2 separate regions of the Homo sapiens genome follow, and region 1 is linked to region 2. Evidence: fine-mapped expression QTL. Tissue or cell type: whole blood. Region 2 holds a variant in brackets; the other region holds the start of a gene. All regions are shown on one strand. Distances are between the middles of the regions.

Region 1 (14,921 bases), 59 kb after region 2:
ACTCCAGTAAAAATATAATTTCTATGAAACACAGTAAAGACAAATATATATTCAGTAAATGCTTAGTCAATTTTTATGATAGAAATCCTAACCATAACTTCTATGAAACAGAGTAAAGGAAAATACACTTAACCAAGTTATTTAATGGAAATCCTAACACATGCTCACATCACGCAAGTAGATCCAGACATTCATTCAATACTTAACAGTGTGCCTGCTACGTGCTAAGTGCTCAATATACAACAGTTGGTAAAAGAGAAGCAAACAGTGCTCTCAGTGAAACTTCTAGCTGAGTGAAAAGAATACATGGATATCAAATAAAATCAATATATAGGAAAAGTTAAAATCACAACTAAGATATCCCAGAAAGAATGTTTTCTAAGGGGATTTAATGGGGTCCCTAAGTGAGTGATAACTGAGCTGTTACTTGAAGGATGAACAGGAGTTAAATAGTCAAAGTTAGACTAATAGATGGAAATTTGTTTGAAAGAGCAAGGAAGGTACCTGTAAAAATCTGCCAATAGGAAAAAGCCAACCATCATGTCCAGATCACAGATAGCACAGAATCAAGTAACAAATGGAAATGAAGAGTTAAGTAGAGGCCAAGCTATCAAAAAACCATATAGAGAGCTTGGACTTTTTCATAAAAGCAATGGGAAGACACTGCTGTTTTCAAAAAAGAGGATGTCATCTTCTTTTGGATATTGTCATCCTCAGACTTGCATATTGAGGAGATCACCTTGACTATACTGTAGAAAACTGACTTGGGAAAGTAAAGAACAGATGTGAATATAGTAAAGGTAGTACAGTACAAAAAGCAAGAAATGAAGGTAGCACTAAGTTGGGTGGCAGTATGTATGCAGAGATGTACATGGATTTCAGAGTCAGTCAGGAAGTGAAACCAATAATTACCGACTGGAGATTTGACACGGGGACTGGGAGTTTTGGAAGTGTCAAAGATGAGTCATAGCTTCTTAGCTTTCAGAGCTAGTTAGCTAAGAAGATGGAAAGATGAAAAGGGAACACTGGAAATGAACTAGTTTGTTTGGTGGAGGGAAATCATGAGTTCAGTTTTGAATATGTTGAATACGAAGTGCCACTCAGTCATCTAAAAGAAAGTATCAATAATAAGAGTGTACAGCTCAGAGAAGTCTGGGTTGGAGATCAGTGACTCATTCATACGCAGTTGACAACAGAAGCTGTGATGTGGATGAGATCACCTATAAAGACAGAGAAATAATATTTATACTTTTTCTGCCAGGTCTTGAACTTTGTAATCAACTGTCATGATTAGCAATACACCAAGATTGAAAGACTGTTTTTGCTTAAGATGGAAATTTTAGTCCTCACAACTCTGAAAGGGCTCATTTCCTACTTCTAAAGCAATCACAGGCTTCTATCTACTTGGTGTGTAGATATATCTTACGTGTTTTACTCATCTTTAAGTTGGAGCTTATTTTCTGCTTACAGGCTCTAAGTTTGGAAAATTAAAAGCAAATTTAAAAGTTCAAGATTTAGAATGAAATTGGAACTAATTTTCTCTTGGTCCTATAATCTTATAATAGTTATTCACTGACCAAATATTTACTGAGTATCTACTACATACAAAGAATTGAGCTAGGATAAGGGAAAAGAGAGAAGATTTGTAACACGATCTCATGCTCTTGATGGATTCATAAATAAAAGGTAACCATTTACTGATTTATAAATCTATGTTCTCAATCACCATACAGTGAGAGACATCTAAATTTGCCTGCAGAGAGGTATTTATAAAAAGGCTTCACAAAGATACAACTTGACTTGAGACTAACTGAATGAAAAGGCATCTTGTTAGAAGGAAAAGCAGGAAATGGGCTTTTATGTTACCACCACAACGAAGCAGGGATTAATAAAAATAACTAGCCAATAGAAGTGAAAAGCGCCAAAATGAAAGCATTGTCACAGGTTCTATATATGAGATCTGAAAAACACAACATTGAAAGTTACTATGAGGTAAGCAGAATTTACTTTTAAGCAACAAGCTTAGAAATAACATCTTACAGACCCAGTCTATCTAGTATTGCAATATTTCTCAACTGTCAGTCATTATACCATTTTCATGATTTTTGAATATCATTTTTTTATTAAATTGAATTTTTTAAAAGTTAGTTTTGCTCTAAACAATATTCCTAAAGTCACAGAAGTGATAGGGTAATTACATTGTTTTCTAAGATGTTGACACAGTACATAACTATTAATATTTTAGAAGTTTGAGTATCATCAAAAATCTTCTCACTTATGACAATGGTACACATACCACACTTTGGGTTATATAATAATAAAGTGTTGCATAAGAGACTTAAAGAGGTCTTCCATTTCAATGTTTTTAACAATATCAACTGCATTCAGAGTATTTATTCATTCAATAAGTATCTGCAGCCGAGCACAGCTGCTCACGCCTGTAATCCCATCATATTAGGAGGCCAAGATGGGAGGATCTTGAGCCCAGGAGTTTGAGACAAGCCTGGGCAACATGGCAAAACTCTTTGTCTCTACAAAAATACAAAAATTAGCTAGGCATGGTGGGGTGCACCTGTGGTCCCAGTGACTCGGAAGGCTGAGGTGGGAGAATCACCTGGGCCCAGGAAGTTGCGGCTGCAGTGAGCTGTGATTGCACCACTGCACTCCAGCCTGGGCAGCAGAGCGAGACCCTGTCTCCAAAAATAAAAATAAAAAACCCCAAAAAGTATCTGCTTAGAGCCCACAATGTACACAGCCTTGTGCAAGATAATGTGGGGTTACACAAATATAAATGTCTCTATTCCTAGACAGTATTGCTCTAGTAGTGACTGTAAACATTACTACTTATCCAGCTACTTCAAACAAAAAACAAAAAAAAACCAAAAAAACTGCTTTACCATTTTCCCCCAATTATAAACATAATGAATGATCATTACAAACCAAAAAAAGTTAGGAAAATATGGTTAATAAATAAAACAAAGGTGACTAGCAGTAATTTTTCATTCAAAGATAACTGGTTATTTTAGTATACAACCATATCCCTAAATTTCTTTTCTTTAATTTAAATACTAATTTGTTTAAAATAACTGGTCATATCGTTATTTTGGAACCTATTTTTAAAACTTCATAGATCACAGATGTTTGCATATATTTAATTAATCTCTTAATGATTTGTTACCATTTTAATTTCTATTTTCATTTTTTGAGACAAGGTCTTGCTCTGTTGCCCAGGCTGGAGTGCAGTGGCACGATCTTGGCTCACTGCAACCTCTACCTCCTGGGTTCAAGTGATTCTCGTGCCTCAGCCTCCCAAGTAGCTGGGATTACAGGTGTGCACCACTATGCCCAGCTAATTTTTGTATTTTTAGTAGAGACCGGGTTTTGCCATGTTGGCTAGGCTGGTCTCAAACTCCTGACCTCAAGCAATCCACCCGCCTCGGTCTCCCAAAGTGCTGGGATTATAAAGGTGAGCCACTGTGCCCAGCCAGTTACCGTTTTATTTTAAAAATAATGCTGCAATGCACATTCTTTGCACACATCCAATTATTTATGTAAAATAGATTCTGAGGAGTGCAAGTGCTGGGCATGAACATTTCATGATGACAAATATCACACTGCAAGTCCTCACATCACCTTTACTTCACAGCACTTAAAAAGGCCCTTGCACACAGTAATTGCTGTAATAACTGATGAATGGATAATGAACAGAAGATTATATATGGAGCCGTGTAATCCTTATTTATGAGTAATGCCTTTCCTAGACTGTGGAACCAACAAAATTACTGCAAGCAATGTGGTGGGGTAGAAGGAGTCAGAAGACTTGAGTTGCAGTTCCAGGTCTGCATGTCCTTACATAAGTCACTTTAATCTTGTTCGCTGATACAGTCTTATTGCTCAAGGTAACTAAGAAAATTAAATGAGAAAAGATATGTAAAAAAGTCTGTAAAATCAATCTAAAGGATTATATAGCTATGTTATATTAATTCAGTGCCCCAAATGAAGTGGATGCTAGACTAACTTACCTCACTAATTCAGTGTCAAATCAACTTTGCTGCCGGTCCCACTCCAATCTTATTCTTCAATTTTAGTAACCGGATTCCTATCCTTTCTTCCCACACCTCAAGAGGTCTGCTGCCTGGTTCCACTACAAATGTAAAATGGGATACCACCACTGACTCCCTAGTCCTTGCTATCCAGAATTCACTCCACTGCCTGATACCTTCTACCCTCACAGTGTGATCTCTGCTTATCAAGACCTCTTGGCCTATCAAAACCTCTTGGCCTATCAAGAACTCTTGGGCTATCAAGACCTCTTGGCCTATCAAGACCTCTCGGCCTATCAAGACCCCTCCTTGGATCCTGTAATCACAGGTCTGGCTCATGTGAACTACTACTGGTTTTCAGTTACATCTTCAACTATCAGCAACATCAACACTCAAAATTGCTTGCTGCTGGAGGTGACAAAAAATTTTAATTAGTAAACACGTAATGCAAACTAGAGCCAGCTGTCTCTCACCTAGTTCCAAACAATCATTTCTCGCTGCTACTCATTTTGGCCCTTCAAGACCTTATTATCTAATCAAACGGGACTACTGACCTCTTCTGAACATGCCCAATCACATCTTTGCTCAAAAAGTTCTTTCCATGTAGCACACTCTGGTCCTCAAACTTAAATTTTTCCACACCCCAAAGTAGTGCGTCCCCTATGAATTTTTCTGATTACCACATCTTGAGTGACTTCTTCCTCCAGATTTCCATGGCTTTCTGCTAAACATCTTTTACGGCACTTACTATTATTGCATTTTGTATTATGGTTCTGACTTTCTTCTACTTTAGATCTATATTGTCCAATATGGTAGCCAGTAGTCACATGTGGTAACGGAGCACTTGAAATGCGTTTTGTCTAACTTGACATTAATATGAAAATAGTATTAGTATGAAATGAGTAGAAAATGGGATGTAAAATATACATTGACTTTTATATTGATTACATATTGAAATAATTTTGATATATTGGGTTACATAAAATATATTATTTAAAATAATTTTACCTGTTTCATCTTACTTTTTAATGTGGTTACTAGAAAATCCAAAATTATGTATTTCTACTAGACAATGTTGCTTTAGACAGGGGCCACTGCACAAAGTTTAGCAGGCTGTTATCCGCACAGGGGCATTTATAAAAGGACAAGAAGGGCTAAAATCAAGGCCATCCTACACTCACCAAGCCATGCACTCTGGAGGGGGCTGTGTCTGCTCAGGGGCAAAAAATCTGTTGCTTCAAAGGCGCCATCTCTTCACCAAAGTGTGACCCCTGGGAGCTCTGTGTGTCCAGAGAGCATGCCTTTTTCTAATTTGCATAAAGGCATCATATAAGCTAGCGACAGCCCTGAGATGGGTGACGACGCCTTACTCATATTCTGCCTGCCACATACTAGTGGCAAAGCAACTGAACAAATTAATGAATGAGTACTCAACTCTACTTACCCTCTTATTTTATTTTTGAGACGGAGTCCTACTTACCCTATTTATTTTATTTTACTTTTGAGACAGAGTCTCGCTCTGTCAGCCAGTCTGGAGTGCAGTGGTGCAATCTCAGCTTATTGCAACCTCCACCTCCCAGGTTCAAGCAATTCTCCTGCCTCAGCCTCCCGAATAGCTGGGACTACAGGTGTGCGCCACCATGCCTGGCTATTTTTTTTTATTTTTAGTAGAGATGGGGTTTCACCATGTTGGCCAGGCTGGTCTTGAACTCCTGACCTCAAGTGATCTGCCCGCCTTGGCCTGCCAAAGTGCTGGGATTACAGGCGTGAGCCACCATGTCCGGCCTACTTACCCTCTTTAGACACATCTCTTCTTATCATGTGATGACATATAACACTTTATCTGGTTAGAGAATATAGTTCTCATTAGGGCTCACCACTAATCAAAATCACTGTTTAACTTCAAGATTCAAATTTTCATGTCTGTCTTCTAGCACCACATCAAAAATTAATAATCACTGCATATTTCTTTTATAGCTTTGTATTTCCAGATAAGCATTTGACCATTCCATAATACTATGAAAATACTTATTAATGTGTTTACATTTTTGAAAGATCAGTATAAAAATAAATAATGTAACACCCAAGAATCTCTAATTTTTTCCAACCTACCTGATTGCATTTCTCTTCTTGTCTTAGAACACTCGATTCTGGGAGATTTCACAATTTCAGAGGTGCCTGAGTCTAATGTCCTTTGTTTTTCTTCGAGAGAAGAGTCTGTAGTATGTTGAACAATGTTTTTTTTCTCTTTCTTATTTTTTTGTGTAAATTCTTTGCTATCCTTCTTCGGACTTATGTTTGAATCTATCTTAAATTTACATGAGGTTTTCATTTTTTTAATTCCTATAGAATTATCTAAATCAGTTTTATTTTCAGAACCCTTGTGATTAGCCTTCTTGGTTTCTTTCTTTTTCTCAACTAGATTTTTTGAATCGATTTCTTTTTTAGTCTGGGTTTTTTTCTTCTTTATTTTCTTTTGACTCAATGCTTTGCTATCTTCACCAGAGAGATTGGAATCAGAATCTGAAAGGTCGTAAAAACGCTTCAAATCCTCTGTAGTGCTATGGCTAATGGGGCGCCCTCTTTTATCCACGGCATAGTTCAACTTGAACTTCTTGTCATGAAACATGGCTCGAAATCTCTTGTCAATTTTGACTTTTCGATCCTTTTCTGGCATTTCCCAAAATCTCGGGTCCTTTGCAACCCGTCTAAACCGCTGGTCACTCATTATTTCTTGTTTGGATGACATTTTTAATTCTTAATCTCGACCAAATGCTTGAAGAAAACAAATACTGAAAAATAAAACAAATGTTTTAATGGTAATAATGGTTAGTACAATAATTAAATGTTTTAAAACACATTCACAATATATTCTAAGTTAATATATTCTAAGTTAAGTGTACATAAAATAGAGGTAACAAGTCTAATTTCATCTCTCCAACGTATTCTGGGTCACATGCAAAAAAGCAGAAACATACCAAAATATCCTCTTTCCATGACAGATCATTTAGAGAAATAAACTTAAGGTAGACAAAGCAGAATCCCAGGGCTTTATGGAGGGGAACAAATGTTTATTCATCCATTGCTCTCACTTAGAATTTCTATTTGTATACCAGTATGTGTTACTAATTGAAGGCAAATGTAGTTAAGATTCCCTAGGCCGAGTGCGGTGGCTCACCAGCACTTTCGGAGGCCAAGGCGGGCGGATCACTTGAGCCCAGGAGTTCAGGACCAGCCTGGGTAACATGGTGAATCCCCACAAGAAATACAAAAATGAGCCCGGCATGGTGGCGCGCGCCTGTAGTCCCAGCTACTTTGGAGGCTAAGGCAAGAGGATCACTTCCACCCGGGAGGTCTTGGCTAGAGTGAGCCTAACGGCACTACAGCACACCAGCTGGGGCAACAGAGTGAGACCCTGTCTACCAAAAAAAAGTAAGAAAGAAAGATTCCCTAGCCTCCGTTGGCCTCATTTGTTTCTTCACATTCTGGTCTCATTCTGCTTACTCCTTATCTCCGGCTACTGCCAACAAACAGCCTTTAGTTCTGTAAGACTAGCATTCTAACTAAACAGACCAAAATCAACTCAGGTTTAGCTAAGAAAGTTTCCTTTTTAAATTCGATCATCCTTCAAAAGTAATAAAAAGTTTAAAAATAAAAAGTAAATTTGAGTCTCCAGGTAAAGTCTCACACCAGTTAATAAATATCACTTCTTTCTATAATATCTGATTCTACCAGTGATGAAGGCCCAAGTGAGCTCATTCCCCCAAAACATACTAGAACATATACATATGTGTGTATAAATTAATATTGTTCCCTTGTGAAAAGTCTCCAATGGTTTAGCATCTCTGGATGGGAATTTTGCAAAGAGCCAAAAGTCGTTGATTATTAAGCAACCCCCCCCCAAAATGATTAAAAGGGCAATATTTCTTATTTAAAAATCAAGTCCTTTTAATTACACTAACTAGGAAAAAAAAGGAAGCTATCGCTGGTGCATTTACACATTTTTCGATGTATTACAGCACTTAACTCTCTGAGCAATCTTACGAGGTAGGTACCACCTCAACCAGGAGAAGTACTGCATGTATTGTAAATGTTTAGAAGGAAAGCACTCATTATATGTCAGATAATCCGAGAGAGGGGAAGGCGACCGGACCTCACTCCCGACACGCGCCCGCATCCCCGTAGCCCACCCTCCCCTTCTGCCCGCTCTCTAATTCGGAGAACACAGGGCTGGCCCCTGAACTAGGGTCTCCTTTCCACCTCCTGTACCGCAGGGGGGCAGCTAACAGACTGATTCGAGAAGCGACCCTGAAAAGGATCGATGAAGACTGAAGAATGAGACCGAAAAAGGCTCAGGAGGAAGGGGCAAAACCCCTCGCAGATCCGAAAGAGATCCTGTTAGAGACTAGTTTTTTCCCCGCGCCACACACACACACGCCCTCAAGCCCTTCATCTCGAGCTCTTCAACTCCAGTCCATCCCCACTCACCGTCCGCAGTCCTACCAAGCCTCACGTGGGGCTCACACCCACAATCCTCCGCGTGACGCTCCGCCGTAATGGCAAGCGAACTAGGCCAAACTACTTGCACGTTCCCTCGAGAAGATCTTTGGAGTAGACACAAAAGCCGCGCTGGCGCATGCGCACAAAAAGCGCCGGCAATTGGGGTCGCAGCTGGAGATGCTGCGGCCGGCAGGGCTCTGGCGCTTATGTCGGCGACCTTGGGCGGCGAGGGTCCCAGCGGAGAATCTTGGCCGTAGGGAAGTCACCTCTGGTGTCTCTCCCCGCGGTAGCACCTCGCCCAGAACCCTGAATATTTTCGACCGGGATTTGAAAAGGAAACAGAAGAACTGGGCAGCCCGGCAGCCCGAGCCGACCAAATTTGACTACCTGAAGGAGGAGGTGAGCCCGCGGGGCGGCGGGGCGGCGGGGCGGGCGACGCGGAGGCTTGTTTTCCTCTCCGCTAGTTCCGGCTAGGCCCCGAGCTCACCCCACCTAGCCGTCTGACCTTGACCAGCAGCCCTGCCTCTTTCGGCCTCTACTGTAATCACGCAAGGCCTGGCCTCGGATATTTGTAACATGCTTTCATTCATTCATGCATTCATTTCGGCAACGTCCTTGAGGCTGAAAGGACCTTATAGAGGCCTCCAGTGAAGCTCCGGAGAGGGAGAGAGTGGGAGAGAAGGTTAGGAGGACCCAAATCATCAGGGCCTTGCAGGATAGGGACTTGGGGTTTTCTTCTGTATCTGCACTGTCCAGCCAGTATGGTAACTGCCGGCCACACATGTGGCTGTTGAACACTTGAAAGGTGACTAGTCCAATTGAGATGTGTTGTAAAATACACACGAGTATAGTGACTTAGTATGAAAAAAGGATGTAAAATAGCTCATTAAGAGCTTTTATATTGATTACATGTTGCAGTGATTATTTTTGATATATTGGGTCACATGAAATATATTAAATATAAATTTAAATTTTTCAATTAAAATTTCTCTCGTTTTTACTTTTTTTCTTATGTGGCTACTAGAAAATTTGAAATTACATATGTGGCTCTCATGATTTTTGGTCAGCACTGCTCTAGGGGAATGTGAAGCTCTTGTTTTAATCAGTGGAGTGATCTGACTTATGTTTTAGGAAGATCAAATTAAGATTTCTGATTTGTCTTGGCTCGTTTGAGAAACCTTTCTCCCTGCCCAGGTGAGCCAGAGACTGAGGGTTTCTACTTTCAGGACACGCATTCTCAAGTTCAGGCCTCAGTAAATTTTTATTCAGGAGTGGAACAAAGTTGGAGTCAAGTATAATGCAACAAACAGTTATTGAACTCATAGCTTGAGCAGAGCTCTGTGCAAGTACAGGTCTGATCAGATGATTGACAGGGTGTCTTTCTCAGGAAGTCTTAGGCTGGTAATGTCTATTATAGGAAGTTTACTACCAATAAATTTTTTGTGTCTCACTTGTAAGGCATGGTGCACGTACTACACTGCTGATGTCGTGTACTTAGAAGATGTGCGCTCATAGCCCTTTCCCTCCAAAGAAAGCACCTGGACTACAACTTGATTGAGGCCTCGCCAATTTGTGAGACTAGAACAAATAAGATAAAGTATATGAGAGTTCTTTTTATAATAAACATAGGGTGTTCATATTAGGAATGACGTACAAGGTGGACTCCTGGGAAAAACATCTACGCTCCCTTCTCCCTTGCCCTTCTCTCAAAAAGCAGGTACATCTGTGTTTGGAACTTTTAAGTCCTAAGAGCAACTCTGGGGTGTTTATGAGGGAATGAGTGGAATGTGGGGAATACTAGACTCCCACGTCTTTATTGCTACCAGATGAAGCTAGGCCAGCAAAAGGTGGTGCTTACCTTATGACTCTTAAATTGGGATGGGATTGGAGCAGGGGAGGTGCACTTTCCTCAGATTTGGCTTTTTCTAACTTGCGAATGTCACTCAGAAAAGTTGTTCATTTATGAGTTCCACAAAATTTGTTAGTCATCAAATAATAGAGTTTTTCTTAAGTGACCACTTACATACTCATCTACAATAAACCCCAACTAACTAATTTTTCACTTTGTGTACCTCATGCTAATATCCGTGGACAGTAATGTGCCTGTTGTGTTCCTTTTGCTTTTCATCCTTGTGATCTTATGTCACATGGAATGTAAAGGCCACATATATATATGTGTGTGTGTGTGTGTGTATATGTATATTTTTAAGAATATTTAGTCTGGATTTCATGAAATTGACTTCTGAAATAATTTGCCTCAATTTTGTTTCCTGGTGGTTTGAGAAGAAAGTTCCTGTGGTGAAATTGAAAAGGGGATAAAGGGAAGTACTTATTTTAAAACATAAGTAACTTGTGGATTGTTGAATACTGGAAAAAGAGTGTTACTTCCCCGTTAACCTACGCCTCGTGTAATCCTTCAGGTTGGAAGTCGGATCGCAGACCGTGTATATGACATACCCAGGTAAGTGGTGGTGATCATAATACAATACCATCAACTTTTGAGTGGAAATTCAGGAGATTAAATGCTGAGAACTTGCTATCTGAAATGGCAGAACCTGGAAGAATTTACTCAGACTGGTGATTTAAATCACTCTGTAAGTCTCCTTTTTCTTGTCTGGAGAGCAAATGTTTTCTTCATTGTTGCCTGAAAAAAGAAAAGAATGTGTGGAAGCACAACTCGTATCTATCTCCAAGCCTGAATCCACTTGATTTGGCCAAAAGCAAGTAATAGAAAGATTGCTCCAAAAATGGAGATACTTAACAACATGCGAATTTTTAACATCCGAAGCCTCTGTACCTAACTGTGCCATATTGCCTGTGTTCATCATCAAGATATAGGGCATTAGGTAAATAAGGTTATCTACCACCAGGGATTCTCCAGCTATGTACTATAATTTTGACAAAGCTTTTTAAAAACAAATTGCAATGGGGCTCTTTTTGTTCCAGTTTTTCAGGAAGAATGTTCTTAGTAGATAAAATTTTAAGTTTTCTTATTATAGGTTTTTTTTTTTAAACCTATGGCCTACAATTAGATGTCTGTACCAATGTAGCATAACATAGTGTATTTAGAGGAGACAGCATGGCATGGAGGATAATAGTTCCAGCTCAGGATTCAGACTGACCGAATTCAAGTGTTGACTGCCCCTTGTTAGTTGAGGCACTTGGTTTGACTTACTTAGCTTCAGACACTTAGCACAGTACTTTGAACCTGGTACGTTTTCAGTAAAAGTTTAACTGTTACTTAAGTTCTTATTTTTTAGTTTAACATTAATACTTAATGGTATTTCACATGATGATTTCTAAGTATTCCACTGCTTCAAGAAGTCTGAGAAATAGGGATAATTATTGATAAGTATGTCAGTTATTTTCAAGTTAATTTACATTAGCTTCTTTGCATTCTTTATCTGGATGTATTATTGAGTTAAAATATCCTCATTAAATCTGTTCTTCGAGTCCACATCATGGAGCCACCTGGTGGAAAGCTGGCTCATCACAAGGTCCTGTGAATAGCTAGCAGACAGACTTGCCTTGTACTGTAGGCTCTGGTATATACAGCTTGTAAGGTGAGGCTGAAAAGGCAGATGATGTAACCTTCTGGAAGTTGTGTTTACTGGAATGATTTTACCTAAGAAAAAATAATTCTTAATTTATAGACTGTGTTATGGACAGAGCATAACCTCTGTGTCTTTTTTTTTAGAAATTTCCCCCTTGCTTTGGATCTTGGTTGTGGAAGAGGTTACATTGCACAATATTTGAATAAGGTATATTTATTCAATGACCTAATTTACTTTGAAAAGTAACATTGGCTAATTTTAAAGAAAGACTTTCCTAATCAGTTTAGCTTGCAACATATTTAGATTTTAATTATATCAGAATTGTTAATTTGTTTTTTTTTTTAAGTGGTAGAATCAATGGTGGTTTTCTCCCTTCTTTAGAATTTTTTTCTTAAAGGGTTTTTCTCTGAATCCATTATATATTATGTTTCTACCGATAATTTATTTGAATCTATAGAAGATATATTTCTCTTTGTTCACATTTTTTTATAATTACCATAAAAATCAGATTGGCATTCATACAGAAAATGTGACTTTTAGCTAGAAAAATATTAATTTTATCAGTTGATTAGAAATCTTTCTGTATCATTAAATATAAGTAGCTTTATTAATGCTTATAACATTGTATTTTGCACTTTATAATTCAGACCATGAAGACATTAATTTATTCTTTTAGCTCCTATCTATACGATATTGTGCTGGACACAAAGATGAAAGTGGAATTTCTTTTTTTTTCTGAGATGGAGTCTCACTCTGTTGCCCAGGCTGGAGTACAGTGGCACGATCTCGGCTCACTGCAACCTCTGCCTCCCGGGTTTGAACGATTCTCCTGCCGCAGCCTCCCAAGTAGCTGGGATTATGGGGGTGCACCACTATGCCCTGCTAATTTTTGTATTTTTGGTAGAGATGGGGTTTCACCATGTTGGCAAGGCCGGTCTTGAACTCCTGCCCTCAGGTGATCCGCCTGTCTCGGCATCCCAAAGCGCTGGGATGACAGGCGTGAGCTACTGCGCCCAGCCTTAAAGTGGAATTTCTTTTTTTTTTTTTTGAGACAGAGTCTCGCTCTGTTGCCCAGGCTGGAGTGCAGTGGTGCAATCTCAGCTCACTGCAAGCTTTGCCTTCCAGGTTCATGCCATTCTCCTGCCTCAGCCTCCCGAGTACCTGGGTCTACAGGTGCCCGCCACCACGCCTGGCTAATTTTTTGTATTTTTTAGTAGAGACGGGGTTTCACCGTGTTAGCCAGGATGGTCTTGATCTCCTGACCTCATGATCTGTCCGCCTTGGCCTCCCAAAGTGCTGGGATTACAGGCGTGAGCCACCATGCCCAGCCTCATAAAGTGGAATTTCTACGTAAAATCTGCTTAGATAAAACCATAGACTTGGGCCAGGGTGAGGAAGGGAGTGGTGGGGCTCCTAAAACACTATTATTGGTAATAGTAAATGCCATAGAAATGGTGCAGTCATTAAAGTGCAACAGGAATTAGGGGAAAAGAAAAAATCAGTAGGAGTTCATGTGGTCAAGGATTCTCAGGGGGCACAGAATCTGACCTGGGATTTGAAAGAATTTGAGTTGGTGGTTCCTAGCATTGGAAATCAGGGCATGGCAGGAGGAAAGGCACAGAGGTAGAATGCTGTAGGGTGTGATATAGTGATGTTTAAGGAAGATTAATCTGGGGATGGCATTCGAGAAAGATTGAAGAAGAGAAAGGGTAGAGAAACCCATCAGAAGGCTGTGTTAAAGGCATTGCAGGCATGAGAAATAAAGGCCTGCCACCCATGCAGAGCCAGCACATATAAATGATGGGATGTATGAGAGAGACCTGGAAGTATCAACAGAACTTGATGACTGATCAGATATGGTAGGCAGAGCAAATCTATTCTTTTAGTAACTCAACGCCAAAAAACATTTTTATTGATTCCTCTTATATCCTTCTCTCCCACATCTAATCCGTCAGCAGCTTTTATTTGCATTTCAAAATATAACCAAACTCTTATGTCTTCTTGCCACCTTCCCCATCACCGTGCTGTTCAGCTATCATCGCCCCTTGCCTAGATTATTGCAGTAGCCTCCTATTGGTCTCCCTGCTTTACCTTTGTCCCTGACAGTCTGTTGTCATGGCAAAGTATCCTCGTAAAACACAAATCAAATCATTGTCAGTCCTCTGCCCAGAACTGTTAGTTTGTCATCTAGTTTAGTAGTAATCCAGAGTCCTAATCTATAAGACCCTCAGGATTCTGTTTTTTTATCATGTCTCTGATCCCATCTTCTTCCTTTCACTCCCAACTTTTCAGCAACCCTGGCCTCCTTGCAGTCTCTCAAACAGGCCAGAGCTTTGCTCTATGCTCTTCCCCAAGGTATCTGTGTGTCTTAGTTGCTCACCTGTCAGATCTTTACTCAGCTGACTTCATCAAAGATTCCTCCCGTGACTGCTTTAGAAAATAGTGCCCCTGCTTTCTGCCGACTAGTTGCTTTATTTGCTTCCATAGCACTTACAAGCTCCTGATGTATGTTTATTTGGTGTCTTTCTTCTCTTACTGGATTTGCTCATTTTTGATCACTACTAAATCCTAGTACCTAAATCACAATGAGTATTTATTAAATGACTATTGCAAGATAACTTTAGAGTTTAAGTTACACCTTTTGTGACTGGAAAATTCAGGGGATGTGATGTGGCAAGGAGCACGGGATCATTCCTGTTTTAGATATGTTGAGTTTGAGATGGCAGTGGAATATGGTAGTATAAATAGCTGGCAGGTAGTTGGAAATGTGGAACTGGAATTGGGATATTGAGGTTAAGAGCATTGACTTGAAGTCAGGGCTTCA
Region 2 (15,252 bases):
TTTTTAGTAGAGATGGGGTTTCACCGTGTTAGCCAGGATGGTCTTGACCTCCTGACCTCGTGATCTGCCCACATCAGCCTCCCAAAGTGCTGAGATTACAGGCATGAGCCACCACGCCCAGCCAGCTAATTTTTTTTATTTTTCATAGAGATGAGGGTCCCACTATGTTGCCCAGGCTGGTCTCCAACTCCTGGACTCAAGTGATCCTCATGCCTCGGCCTCCAAAAAAGTGTTGGGATTATAGGCGTGAGCCACTGCACCGGGCCCCTAAGACATTTTCAAGGGTAACTTTGACTATGCTCAATTTCTATCTGCAGAGCTGACTTTAGATTCAATTCCAGCTTTAAGAGGCTATGCCTGGTGTCTATGGTTACCTCAAAGTCATCCTCTATTAATTCCTTCTTTTTCATGAGCTGCTTTTTCTTCTTTTTGCTCAGATTCTGGTGCTCCACAATCTTGTTGTAATTGAAGTGTTTCTTACTGTCCTCGTCCTCATCCATCATAAGCAAAGCCATTTCAGCCTGTAGAGAGCAAAAAAAAGTTCAAATGTACAACAGTGCTTTTTTTTCCACCCCCAAAAAGGAGTATAGGGCAGAAGATATCTCTTCTAGAAAGGAAGACTCAATCACTAGAACTCTGGGGTACCACCTGTTGTCTGTAAACTGACTGTGGATTACCAAAACAAAGAGATCTTTGTATAGCAATAAGGTAGAATCTCTGGAAGCAACATTACTGAGAGCAGGAGAGGTAAAACCTTGTAGTTAAAAACCAGGCCCCATTTCACTTAGTGTGACTCATTAGTAGGCTGCAGGAACAAGAGTCCCCAACTACCCTCAAATAAAAAGTTCTCATTTTCACTTTGTTCTTTTTGCGCAATGATGCTAAATCTAGCAAATGTTTATTTTGTGATGCAAATTATACTTTCTAAATGTGTAACTTTTAACAAGTAAGTTTTTTTTTTGCTTTTTTTTTTTTGGCCTTTACTGTTTCAATACTGATACATTTCTATGAAGGTAGGACCTTAGGATCTGCTTCTGAAATCTAGTAAATGTCTTTTTACACTAAACGGGTATTTTCTACCAGCCATGGGATTAAACGAGAACCCTCAAGAATCAAGTAAATAACCATGTACACTAGTAAAAATACAGAGTATGCTCTCGACCTTTGTGGATCTTCCTATATTACCACTTTAGACTGCCTTAATTTCCTTTTGTCACTGGCACTTTTAGCTGGCTTTTCAGAGACATTTTCCATAAAAATTGATTTTCTTTGTTGCTCTTTAGATAACTTTATGTGGCCAGTCAGGCACACTTCTGGACAGTGACATGAACATCAGCCCTAGGGGCACTGCTGCCTTCAATTCCTGCCTCAGCAAAATCACATATGACTCTGTGCCAAAATTACGTGTGACTCTGGACATAGGGGGTCACTGAAGCATAAGGTTCACTGCATTTCCAAGAATGTAATTTTGTACGTTAAATATACATATTCACAATAAGAAAAACAGAAATTTGCATTTGACAAACCATAACCACAAACTGTATTCCAGGACAGATTCAGATTGAATTAAAACTTATGGCAATATTATTTTGAGGTTTTAAGGGTATTTTCTGCCTCAGGTATAGTAAGTGTTTTTAAAAGTGAGATAATTCCCTCTTAATTTATAAAAGAAAATAAATACCCTTGAATTTGAGGTTAATTTTAACTTTGTACAATTTGGAGAAATTATGTTTGGTAAAAAAAACACTGTATTTAGAAACTACACTGCTAAAATATTTAATTATGTCTCTTACAATTTAGTTATAAATGCCACTGCTAAAATAAGTTGTTTTTTAAAATTAGTGACATGTACAACTTCATTTAAATTGTACCTATGAATTATCCACTAAGCATGTAACAATAATCGTATTTTACCTTTTGTCTTTCTATTTCAATTTCTTCTTCTGGAGATGTGCCATCTTTTGCAGATTTTACCGATTTTTTATTTATACCTGGCACAACAAACCAACATAAGAGTGGTAAAAATTACAGGACTATCAGCAACATTCTGTTTATACTAGGAACAAAAATATAAGATATCTAGGAATAATCTTAACAATAAATGTGTTGAAACTAAAAGAAAAAAACACGTTACTGAAAGAAGACTGTGGGTATATGAATGGAATAAATACAATGCTTCTGCATGGAGTGACTGCATGTTACAAAGGAAGAATTTCTTTCAAAGTAATGTATAATTTACATTACCAATTAAAAAAGAAAAACCATAGATCATTTCCACAGATACAGAATAAGCATGTCCATAAACATAAGAATACTGATTAACATTCAACATCCATTCATAATAAAAGTAGTATACACATTTAATGAAATTCTAAATAAAAAATTCCATTCAAGGAAATCTTTAGAAAGATTACATAGATTCCATGTACTAGTGACATAGTGTATTAACGTGTACTGAAAAGTGAAAATAACCAAAAAATTCCTACACAATAAAAATGATGAAACAGTATATAATAAAATATAGCATCATCATTAGAAACAGAAAAGATTGTTTAATAACTGCTGTTGAGCAATTTGTTTCATTCTGGAAAAAAAGATCAAATTAAAGCCTTATCTCATAATACATAAGAAAATAAAACGCAGGTGAATTTAAGAGTTAAATATCAAACAAAATAAAACAAAGAACCCCTATGAGAAAATACAAGGGAACAGCTACTGTATCTTAAATAGAAGAAATATTTTCTTAGCATAAGAATACTGGAAGAGACAAAGAAAAAACCCCCAAGTGATTTGAATATATAAACTCAACACTATATATCAAACTCTCATCTGCAAAATGAAAAAACTTATCTTTATAATAATAATTTGACAGTCACTACCTGTAAATATAAGTTTTAAAAAACGCTTTCTCCTTCTCTGAAGACAAATCTGATCTTTAGTGAACTTTCTAGCTCTATTACCAGGCAATACCACCAGGTAAAGTGGTTCCTGACTGGAAAATAACATGTATTGGGGTCTCTAAATGCTTATAACTTTGGGCTTCCTTGATACCGTGACTCCTGTAACTGGTAAAACAGGGATCTGGAAGCTATGTCTAGGTGCTGTTAAAAAGCTCTCAGTTCCTATTTGGAACATGAGACTTCTCGCCCAGGGTGACTACTGTACACTGTGTCTCCTTTCCTTGTACCCAAGCTGTACTGCTGAGTGAACTGCCGTGAAGACTCGATGAAGAGAAACACCCAATACTGCCCTGCTGTGTTTCCTGGGCTAACTACCCATGAGAGCCAAGTGTGACCCACTCAAGCCTTTTGTTTGACCACCTAGAGAGCCTAAGAAAATCCCCCGCTGGGCACTGTACCACCCTCAGCAAGTCATCTTTGGAACAATATGAAATCCTATGCCCCTAGATGTGATATAATATGAAAGATAAGCATTGCCTATGAAGTATGCTTGCCAAAACCATTCAACATGAATCTAATGGAACCACTCGTCTAACTTCCAGTTTATGGAAAATATAGTGGACCGAGTGGCAAGGAACAGATACATCTAGAATATAAGACATTCCAAAAGATCACTAGCCTGGGTTCTTGAAAGGCAAATGTTATGGGAGGGGGAAGTGTATATGGTATCTTCTAGACTATAGTGAACTAAAAAGACTACTATTAAATATGTCTATTATATAGTAACATCTTGTATAAATACATTTTTATGATATACCATAAAAGTATATGCATACAAAAGTAAAATGGCAAAATGTTAACAACTGCCAAACACAGGTGCTGTTCACTGTATTATTCTCTCAATTTTTCTCAATGTATAAATTTTCATAATTAAAAACAAGAAACGGCTGGGCGCAGTGGCTCACACCTGTAATCCCAGCACTTCGGGAGGCCGAGGTGGGTGGATCACCTGAGGTCAGGAGTTTGAGACCAGCATGGCCAACATGGTGAAACTCTGTCTCTATTAATAATACAAAAAAATTAGCCAAGCGTGGTGGCCAGCACCTGTAGTCCCAGCTACTAGGGAGGCTGAGGCGGGAGAATTGCTTGAATCTGGGAGGCAGAGGTTGCAGTGAGCAGAGATTGTGCCACTGCACTCCAGCCTGGGCAACAGAGCGAGACTCTGTCTCGATAAAAAAAAAGAAAAGAAATGACTGCTTCTATTATAATACTAATATCTTTCACTTATAAAGATTTCATGTAAATGAAAATATTAACACAGAGCAAAGAGAATTCACAGACAAAACCAAATGGTCAATAAACAGAAGGAAATTATTTCGCCTATCTCACAAATGTTAACTGAGCACTTATTATGTTGCGATCACAGCTCCAGGTGCTGGTGACACAAGCCGTGAACAAGAGGTTAAAATCGTCTCTCATGTAGTATACCTTCACGTTGGGAAAGACAGAGGCAAAGCAGGACAGAAGGGTTGGAGACTGAATGAGGGGGCTGGTTTTGTTAGGGTAGTTAAGGAAGGCCTCTTCAAGAAGGTGACACACAAACAATGACCTGGATGAAGCGAGGGAGGTGATATGTGAGAACACCTGAAGAAGGGTGTGGCAGGAGAAGGGAATGGTCAAGATGGTTGAAGAATTGCAGCTAATGGGGTAACATGATAAGCAAAACCTAAAGTCAAAAGAGGCTTTAGAAACTCCTCTGTGTGTATTAAGTCCCTGCGAATACTCTTGCACACCTGTCCAGTAGACATGCCCAGCCAAGAGAACATGCCAGCATAAAAGTGCTGCCAGGCTTGCCTATCAGTGCTACCAAGCCATTTGTTTTGCACTTCCAAGAAGAAATATTTATTGTATGCAGCCCTTCTCCCTAGAGAAAATGCTCCTCATCACTGGTCCTATCTGAAATTTTTTTCAGGGAATAATATACGAATCTTAAGAGTATAATCTTTCTCTGTCTTAATGTATGTGTATGTCCTTACACATATAAATATCATCAAGGTTCCACTTGCTTAGGGTATGAACCCCCCATTCCCTAAATTTACCACTGCTCCTATGCTCTCAAGCCAAGAGCTCCTTTTGAAATGAATGGACAAATGACATATGCAAAATATTATTCTGTAGCAGGGAGAAAATTAGACTGTATATAATTAATATTTAAAGCAGATAAAGATCTTCACATACAGCTGTGGAAAATAATTTCAAAAAGCCCACAATAAACTATTTCAGATTTTATAACAACCTGGTGAAGAGTCTTAAAAATAAACTTGAAAGGAGGACTGTAATAAGGGAGAAAGAAAAAAAAATCCCCAAGATAGGGCTAAACATGATATCCGGTTTTAGCATGAAGAAAATTTCTTTGCTAACAAAGAATTTACTATGATGTTAGACTGAATTGTTTAGTGAAAAGATAAACAATGCATACAGATGATTTCTGCACTGTTAATAAGATCAAATATTAAGAGATCACATCTATATTTTTTTAAAAAACATTTTTTCCTCCCTGGAAAAATTTCAGACTTAAGTTAGATGAACAGTACTAGGGAAATGAAAGTTTGTGTTCTAAAATATTGTCTTTATTTTTCAGTCAATCTTTTGTCAAGTAAGGAACCACATCTCTAGCTGGGTGTGGTAGCTCACACCTATAATCCCAGCACTTTGGAAGGCTGAAGGAGGAAGATTGCTTGAAGCCAGGAGTTTGAGACCAGCCTGAGCAACAAAGCAAGACCCCAGCTCCACATTTTTTTTTTTTAAATTAGCCAGGCATGGTGGTGTATGCCTGCAGTCCCAGCTACTTGGGAGGCTGGGGCAAGAGGATCACTTGAACCCAGGAGAGTTCGAGGCTGCAGTGAGCCATAATAGCACCACTGTGCACTCCACCCTGAGTGACAGAGCAAAATGCTGTCAAAAAAAGAAGAAAAAAAAAAGAAACTACATCTCCTGGGACTGCTGCAAAAAATACATATGGATTGATTCTATTAAGTCAATACTAACAGAGACTCCGAGTCAGATATTAGAGTTTTACAGTTAAATAAATCTAACCAATCCTTACTGAGGCTAGAATCCTTTTAGGCAAAAAATGTAACAGAATACATCCATGGAAAAAGATAGTGTGTAAAAATAAAATTCATCTGTAAAGGAAATTTCATTTCCCATTACTTATAATGTCAGAGACTTGTTCCCATAATAAACTTCCTCCAGAGGGTTTAGTTGAGCAATTCATATGAGAGAAGCTAAGAAAGTTCACTGGAGGGCAGATGGATGTGGTCTCAGTACTGACCAGATGGGAGTGGTAAGCGCCCTAGTGATTTACTCTTTTGTACCAAGTTCCTGCATCACTTGCCCATAATCAGATGCAGTCTGTTAAGGATAATCTCCCTCTAGGGTTAATCTCCCTCTAGGCTACCACATTCTGGTGCTGCTTTACAATGTTGTAAAATTACAAAAAATAAAGGGAAGCCCACTAGGACTCAGATTCTACCAGCTACCACTGGAAAATTAGCAGATTTTTCTAATATTTCATTTCATTTTCAGCTCATTAATGTGCTCATCCTAGATGATATTTTTAAAACTCTCATTTGACACCAAGTTTGCAATTTAGAAGGAAATCAAAGAAAAAATTATAAAAGATAGAAGAAAAAATTATAAAAGATCTCTAACATTCACCCTGGCACCTAATCTGAGCCAAACGCCAGGTCTGGCATCAATGAACTCATTTCCTCCACATTTTGAAGGCACATAAGTTTAGCTCTATGGGATTGCCTAGAGCAAAAATGTTATAAATGTACCCAAGTCATCTGGTTTACAATGTTTTTGTCCTGTTTAACTACAGAACTTGAACTGTACACTGAAAACACTAGTGTGCCAAATTCATTATATCTTAAATATTTTTGAAAAGCAAGGTCTATATCCTTAGATAATGACTATATTTTACTTCCACCAGGTACTAAAATCTAAAATTATTTTGACAAACTAATAATGAAGGCAACACTGTAGTAATAAATTAATATACCAATGTAGGTCATCTGAGTTATTTTATTTCTACATTTTAAAAATTACAAACTGGCTGGGTGTGGTGGCTCACGCCTGTAATCCCAGCACTTCTGGGAGGCCGAGGCGCGCGGATCACCTGAAGTCAGGAGTTCAAGACCAGCCTGGCCAACATGGTGAAACCCTGTCTCTACTAAAAATACAAAAATTAGCTGGGCACAGTGGCACACACCTGTAGTCCCAGCTACTTGGGAGGCTGAGGCAGGAGAATCGCTTGAACCCAGGAGGCAGAGGCTGTGGTGAGCAGATACTACGCCACTGCACTCCAGCCTGGGCGACACAGTGAGACTCCGTCTCAAAAAAATAAATAAATAAAATAAAAATAAAATAAAAATTACAAACTGGTAAATTTTGAACCAAAGTCCAACTCTCTTTAAGAGTACCTACTACAGATCCTTA[T/C]ATCTGGAAGGCACACAAAAAACTTCCAACTTCTTCCTGACTCCCTATGGGAATCCATTTCCCTGAGGTTATAAGCATGCTTCCACCTATCCTTAAAACCATCCTCCTGGATCATGAGTACAAAATGTTAACATTCAATATATTCTTCCTTATGTCTTCTGGATACTGTTAAGCACAAATTTAGTTTTTGCTGGGGAGGAAAAGGTTCAGAATTGAGTAAAAACTTCTCATTAAATCCATCTATTTGAGCATATACATGATATATATCTAACACATATTTTAAAAGTCCAGTTATACCATAGGAAGTCAGATTAAAATGTAAAGTATGGGAAAACTGTATCATTCTCATATATTTAAATATTTTGTAACATGCTGAAAGTCATATGGGAGGACTGGGTGATTCTGACACTCAATAATTGTTGACTGAATAACCACGTACATGAATGGGGGCACACAGCTTTGTAATGTGCCTTTGAAAAGCCATGTCCAGCATGATTTAAAAGGGACATGCTCCTTTTGTGGCTCAGCTGGTTCTCTCTTTCTCTGCCTAGGCCTCCCATACCGCTGCTCTTGCCACATGTTCTATGGTTTTGTATCTGGCCTGGCCTTCAAATTTATACGCCCCATCTTTCTCCATTTTCAGCCATCCAGACCTGAACACTCTCCTTAAAATTGACAATTAATTGAATCAACCGCCTTAGGCAGTAACCTCCTGCACCCTGCCCCCTCCAGTGACCTGTTTCTACGTCCCTACCCTATCTGCTCATGCAGATTATCTGTGCTTCTGCAAGTGAATGAACAAACAGTATAAATCCATAAACCAATCAGGTAAATCCCTCATCCTTCTGCCACCAAATATACAAATTTATCTGCATTTGTATTTACTTTTATTTCCCCCATTTTCTGTATCTTAGTAACTTCTTTTCTGTTGGAACAATCCCAAGGGAAAGAAAACATGCCCTAAAAGCTCATATCTTTAAAAAAATACCTTCTCCTTACCTACATTCAGGTACTGCTCCACGTCTTTGCTCCCCTTCACAGTGAAACTTCTGAAAAAAGATCTACATTCTTGGTCTCTACTTCCTTACCTTTCACCTCAAACTTTAACCCACACTAATCTACTGAAACCTCTACCACCTCACCAAGTGTCTGTGAGCCACTACATTAATACTGTTCCTCCTATTTCCCAGCCGCCGCTTCTCAGCTTCTTAAGCTTTTCCCATCCTTTCAGGTAGCACTTCCTCCAGTATGACAGATTAACAGTGCCTCATGTGGACTTCACCTGACCTTAGGGCCCATCCTGCATCCTCTTCTCTTATCACTGCTCTCTACTCGCACTGCCATGGTTTGAAGTACTATTTACATGCTACTGATCCTTAACTCTATATTTGTACTCTGATTTCTCTGCTCATCTCTCAGACTTATATCTCAATATCAACCAAACACCTCCATTTGTATATCTAATTGACATCTCAAAGTGATTATACCACAAATGGACGTATTTACTTTGCTTCCCACTCAAACTTATTGTTTCCACATTTCTTCCTCAGTAAATGGAAGAACATTCTTCCATAGACTCAAACCAAAAACAGAAGTTATGCTAAATTTCTTCCTGATTTAGCAAGTATACTTCCAAAGTATATCTAGAGTTCCATTCTCTTCTCCATCCAATTCCACGAGCGGCATGCCAGGTAAACAACCATTATCTTTGGTCTAGAGCTCGGCAAAAGTCTGGTCTTCCAGCCCTCACCAGTCCTCAAACTGTTCTCTTCACAGGCACCAGAGTAATATGTTAATCTATACCAGATTATGTCTCATCTTTGCTTAAAGACTGTTTGGGCTTTCCACTATCAGTAAAGTAAAATCTAAATTTGTTGTCAGGACAACAAAGCCCTACAGGGGTAGTTTCCACTGAGTCTCCAGCCTGTCCTCATACCAATTCCCTCTCCGACAATGCTCCAGCCACACTGATGTCTTTCAATTCTTAACACCACACAGTGCATTCTCACCTTGGAGTCTTTCTACCCACTCTCCCCTCATTTGCAATGCTCTTCCCCCAGCTCTTCATGCCTGACTCCTCATTCCACAGGTCTCAGCTCTAATGCCATCATCTCAGAGAAGCCTTCTTTGCCTACCCAATGTAAACTCCCATATCTCCTACTTCTATCCAGTTATATCTTCTATTTCTTTCCTTGAAAACATTTACCATACCCTCATACTATTTATCTGTCTAACATGTCTTTCTTTAAACCAGACTCCATGAGGGATGCAATCCTGTTTGTATTATCACTACTGTATCTCTAGCCTAGCAGAGAGCTCAGCACCTGGTAGGCAATCAAAACAGTTATTACAGAATGAATAAACAAACATGGCAAGACACTAGCTTTTTGTCCTAAATTTTATGTAAAAAATTCTGGCCTTGCTGTTTTGCTTTTTCAAAACAAAACAAAACAAAACAAAACAAAACAAAACCCACTGCAAAACACACACACAAAAACAGAAAAGCCCAGATAGAAACAATTACCCTCTGGGAACACTCTGAAATCAAAAGTAAATTATAAGCAAGCAAATTTTATCTATACCTTTTTTCTTTGGAACTTCTGATAATAACTTTACAGAAAGCTTACTCTCAATTTAAATGTGTTGATTCCAAAAAACTGGCTACCCCAAGCCATCAAACCATTTAACTTATTCTTTGAATCCTATTCTGAGTTCTGCAATTTGACCAGACTTCACATGCCAAAGGAAACATTTTGGATAGAGAACAAGGAAACTATAATGCTTAGCATTTCTCCATTATAAAGTTGGTTTCCTGAAACCAGAGGATAAGGCTAAAATCCATCATCTTCTAGAAATGACCACTCAGGTATGATAAAAAGCAGAATATGCTAAGTTTCCACTTCTCTGTCCAATTCCCAAGAATCTCACATTCTATAATAGACTTTATTTATCTTAATCTCCTTCTCATCAATAAAATGTCAGTACTAAAAAGCTGTAACAATCAGGAAGTAATTTTGAGCAATTCTGACTTTCCTGTTGAGAACTATTCTGGCCCACTAGTCACAAGGGAAAAAAACAGGGAAACTTCATAAACTCCTTCTCTTTACAATGCCAGCGTGGAGTTGCTCCAGGAGCAAGCCTTTTGGGGTTCTTGTGTGTGGTATAATGATCGGGGAAGGCAAAATGCATGAGAACAAATGGTAAATCCTTACAGTGATTTCTGTACTGACTTACCAAGTATGGCCTGAACCTTACCAAACACATTTACACATACGCATTTCCTCCACATAATGGAGGAAAGAAAGAATGAGTAGTGCATATGAGGTGGAAACAAGGCTCCCTGGATATAGGAAATCAGATACCAGATAATTTAGGGATTCAAGGAAAAAGAGGAGTAAGGAAAGCTGGCTTTCTAGCTATAATTAAGCATAATGAGTACAAAAGGGATAAAATGAAACATAGATGCTTTTGTATGTTTCAGCAGAAAAAGCTTTTATATGAAATTTCATGCATAAATTTAAAAAAATTATACACATATCAACATGCACATAAAAACAAATTTGTTTCATACTTTTAATTCTTGATAGACTTTGCTGAGAGGGACCTAGAATGGATACGCTATTAAAAATCAGTGAAAGTACACAAGAAAATATTTATTCCTCTTTCTATTTCCTCTCATTCTTTTATAGAGTCGATCTGACTGGCACTAAGGATATTTCCCAGAAAGGAATCCCCAGTAAACTATTAACCACATTATCAAAAGTCTCCTATATTAAAATTATCCCTTGTATGTAGAAGGGACAAGTTGACCCTTCCCAATCAGATTAATGACTGTATGCCACAGGACAGACTTGCTTATGTCACTAAGGGAGCTACACAAATACTAGCAATTTTAAAAGAATGATTAGTTTATATTGCTTCCATGTACCTCACCTTTTTCTTTAGATTCCAGTTGAAAACTACAGATATGAGCTGGCTTACCTATTTGTTTAACTTCTTCAGCAAAGTATGGGTCATTCAAATCAACATCAGAGGGAAGTTCCTCTTCACTGGCCTCTTCAGCAAGAGCCTTAAAAGTTGAATATAAAAATACAAAATTTCATTATTACAAGAATTATAATAAATGTATACCAAGAAAAACTATGCATTTCTTTTAAACCAAGTAGTTCAATCTAAAAGTAAATCAGTGGCCAAGCGTGGTGGCTCACGCCTGTAATCTGAGCACTTTGGGAGGCCAAGGCGGGTGGATCACGAGGTCAGGAGTTTGAGACCAGCCTGGCCAACACAGTGAAACCCCATTTCTTCTAAAAATACAAAAAAATTCGCTGGGCATGGTGGTGCATGCCTGTAGTCCCAGCTCCTCGTGAGGCTGAGGCAGGAGAATCACTTGAACCCAGGAGGAAGAGGTTGTGGTGAGCCGAGATCGTGCCACTGCACTCCAGCCTGAGCAACAGAGCGAGACTCCATCTCAAAAAAAAAAATAATTAAAAGAAAAAAAAAGTAAACCAGTTTTTAAATGGACCAGTTTATAAAACAACTCCCACCTAAGTTATTCTGTTTGTTCAACAAATAATTATAGAGGCTGGGTGCAGTGACTCATGTCTGTAATCCCAGCACTTTGAGAAGCTGAGGTGAGCAGATCACTTGAGATCAGGAGTTTGAGACCAGCCTGGCCAACAGGGTGAAACCCCATCTCTACTAAAAATACAAAAGTTAGCCAGGCATGGTGGTGGGCACCTCTAATCCCAGCTACTTGGCAGGCGAGGCAGGAGAATCGCTTGAACCCAGGAGACGGAGGTTGCAGTGAGCCAAGATGGCGCAACTGCACTCCAGTCTGGCGACAGAGCGAGACTCCGTCTCAAAACAAACAAACAAACAAAAAATATAGAATACTTAATAAATGCAGGAAACCATGTAGGCCTTTTGGGAGAAATGGAAGTTATCAGATACATGGTTTCTGCCCTCAAAAATTTTACCATCTATTAAAGGAAATCAGACACATAAACACATAAATAGACAAATACATAAATAAAAATAATTCAAGATAGGAAGGGTTAGGAGGGACAAAGTGATGCAGACATTTGAAGGAGAAGATCTGAAGGAGAAGAATACTTTTAGATGGGTGATCAGTGATGGGAGGTGGCATTTTCTCTCATAAAACTGAAAAATGATAGTGACTGAATTACTTGAAGTAGTGCACTGTGAATTATCTCTTAAATTATTAGTTACAACAATTTATTTGTTGGTTAAAGAAAAGAATTTTTATTATGAAAATCTAAAACATACACAAAAGTAGGACAATGTAATGAACCCTCTGTTCTCATCGCCCAATTTTAACAATTATCTTGTTTTATCTATAAGCCACCCCTAAAAACTGTCAGGCTATTTTTAAGTAAGTCTGTTGGTTAAATTTTTCCTAATCTAATTTGAACAGACTTTTTACTAAATTAGCAAATTTAAATAAAGCAATCAAATCTATACAATAAATAGAACACATGTGAACTAAGATCAGGCTAACCAGACTGAATTTATCTCTAGCAATCTAAAACATCTCAAGTCATTTAAACAAAAATATTTAGAATGCCATTATTGTTAAACATCCTGCATGCAAAAAGAATCACTAAAGCCCTAAAGAATATTTATTTTGACATTAATGTCCTTTTAAGAACAAGTGCTTCTGGCTTTTTTTTTTGAGACAAGAGTTTTGCTCTTGTTGCCCAGGCTGGCTTGCAGTGGCGTGACCTCAGTTCACTGCAACCTCTGACTCCCAGGTTCAAGCGATTCGCCTACCTCAGCCTCCCAAGTAGCTGGGATTACAGGCGCCTGCCACCACACCTGGCTAATTTTTTGTATTTTTAGTAGAGATGGGGTTTCACCATGTTGGGCAGGCTGGTCTTGAACTCCTAACTTTAGGTGATCCGCCTGCCTCAGCCTCCCAAAGTGCTGGGATTACAGGCGTGAACCAACACGCCTGGCCAAGAACAAGTGCTTTTTTTTTTTTTTTTGAGACGGAGTCTCACTCTGTTGCCCAGGCTGGAGTGCAATGGCACGATCTCGGCTCACTGCACGCTCCACCTCCCGGATTCATGCCATTCTCCTGTCTCAGCCTCCCAAGTAGCTGGGACCACAGGTGCCCGCCACCACGCCCAGCTAATTTTTTTGTATTTTCAGTAGAGACGGGGTTTCACTGTGTTAGCCAGGATGGTCTTGATCTCCTGACCTTGTGATCCGCCCGCCTCGGCCTCCCAAAGTACTGGGTTTACAAGCATGAGCCACCGCACCCAGCCAGAACAAGCGCTTCTAAGAATTTTTTTTTTTTTTTACCAAACTATTTTATGGATTCAGCAGTAACATACTTTTAACAAAGAATATTTGCTATGTACCTACTCAACACATTTCTTTAACTGCTTTATAGATCTCAACAACAGCTAGATCAAAATACTAGATAACACGGCATATATCAGGTATTCATTTCTTCAGTAATAATTTTTCAGTATCAAAATTGAAACCACTGAGGAACAAATGGGCAAAAATATTTTTAACTTGAAGAAAATTCTTGAAACTCTTCTATATACAAAGAACCTGTGGAGTTGGAAAGGATCTGTTGGAGTCAAGGCCGGTACTGAGTACTGTAGGGTCTAGAACACCCTGGACACTCAACAATGTATTTTGAATGCTGCTGACCAACGAGTCCAGACTTAGCCCAAATGAATGGAAAAAGTAAAAGCACAAACTCGAAGCTCCCAGCAAATGAAAATCAAACTGAATAGCTGCTACAATTCTCAGAATGACTACTTTATTGACCCCATGAGGGCCCACTTGAGACATCTCCAATAAACTGATAGCTTAACACTTGTGGAGTTATTTCATTTATAAGATATTTTACTCACTTTGGGAGGCCGAGGCGGGAGGATCATGAGGTCAGGAGATTGAGACTATCCTGGCTAACATGGTGAAACCCCGCCTCTACTAAAAATACAACAAAATTAGCCGGGTGTGGTGGCGGGCGCCTGTAGTCCCAGCTACTCGGGAGGCTGAGGCAGGAGAATGGTGTGAACCCGGGAGGTGGAGCTTGCAGTGAGCCGAGATCAGGCCACTGGACTCCAGCCTGGGCGACAGAGCGAGACTCGGTCTCAAAAAAAAAAAAAAAAAAAAAAAGATATTTTACTGCCTACTGAGTTTGAAAAGGAGTTCTAGGGAAGAAGAGAGTTAGTTAGCACATCAATGGGAGCAGGGCTCTTACCCCACGTGGTGTTACATATATATTATTTTCATACATGGTTTCTGGCTCATAAGTTCCTTAGCCCTTGCTATAGTCTTTTGTGTTCGGTCTTAAGGGCAGGACTGTACTCTTCCCTCACCTTTCTAATTGTGCATCTTAAGACCTTCCCCAGAGAGGGTCCTGCCCTGTAGTTGTGGGGAAGGAATGCTGGCATCATGAAGCTTCCATAAAAACCCGAGAAACGAGTTCACAGAGCTTCTGGATAGCTGGACACATGGAGGTTCCTGGAGGGTGGAGCGCCCAGGGAGGCATGGAAGCTCCACAGCCCTTCCCCCATACCTTACCCTATTTCCTCTGTATCCTTTGTAATATCCTTTATGATAAACCAGCAAATGTGTGTAAATGTTTCCCTAAGGTCTGTGGCCACTCCAGCAAATTAATTGAACCTAAAGAGGGGGTCGTGGGAACCCCAACTTGAAGCCAGTCAATCAGAAGTTCTGGATGTCCAGACTTCAGACTGGTGTCTGAAAGGGTGGAGGCAGTCTTGGGGACCGAGCCCCCAATCTATGGGATCTGACACTATCTCCAGGTAGTGTTGGAATTGGAGGTCACCCAGCCGGTGTCCAC

The links.
Region 1: NDUFAF5 starts here. The variant in region 2 is fine-mapped to the expression of NDUFAF5 in whole blood (TOPMed, PIP above 0.99).

Annotation. Positions count from the first base shown.
Region 1 is chr20:13,776,349-13,791,269 of GRCh38, forward strand. It overlaps NDUFAF5 (NADH:ubiquinone oxidoreductase complex assembly factor 5), which reads left to right and starts at 8,680. Exons shown (of 11, transcript NM_024120.5): 1 at 8,680-8,942; 2 at 10,964-11,004; 3 at 12,241-12,304. The coding sequence starts at 8,721. ESF1 (ESF1 nucleolar pre-rRNA processing protein) reads right to left here and starts at 8,571. Exons shown (of 14, transcript NM_001276380.2): 1 at 8,532-8,571; 2 at 6,156-6,835. The coding sequence starts at 6,792. RefSeq lists enhancers at 8,616-8,905, 8,901-9,590 and a silencer at 12,002-12,141.
Region 2 is chr20:13,716,994-13,732,245 of GRCh38, forward strand. It overlaps ESF1 (ESF1 nucleolar pre-rRNA processing protein), which reads right to left. Exons shown (of 14, transcript NM_001276380.2): 11 at 11,385-11,472; 12 at 1,915-1,991; 13 at 375-521. Among named protein-coding and RNA genes, the nearest start is that of ESF1, 60 kb to the right of the region's middle. The variant T/C (reference allele first, on the strand shown) is at 7,404.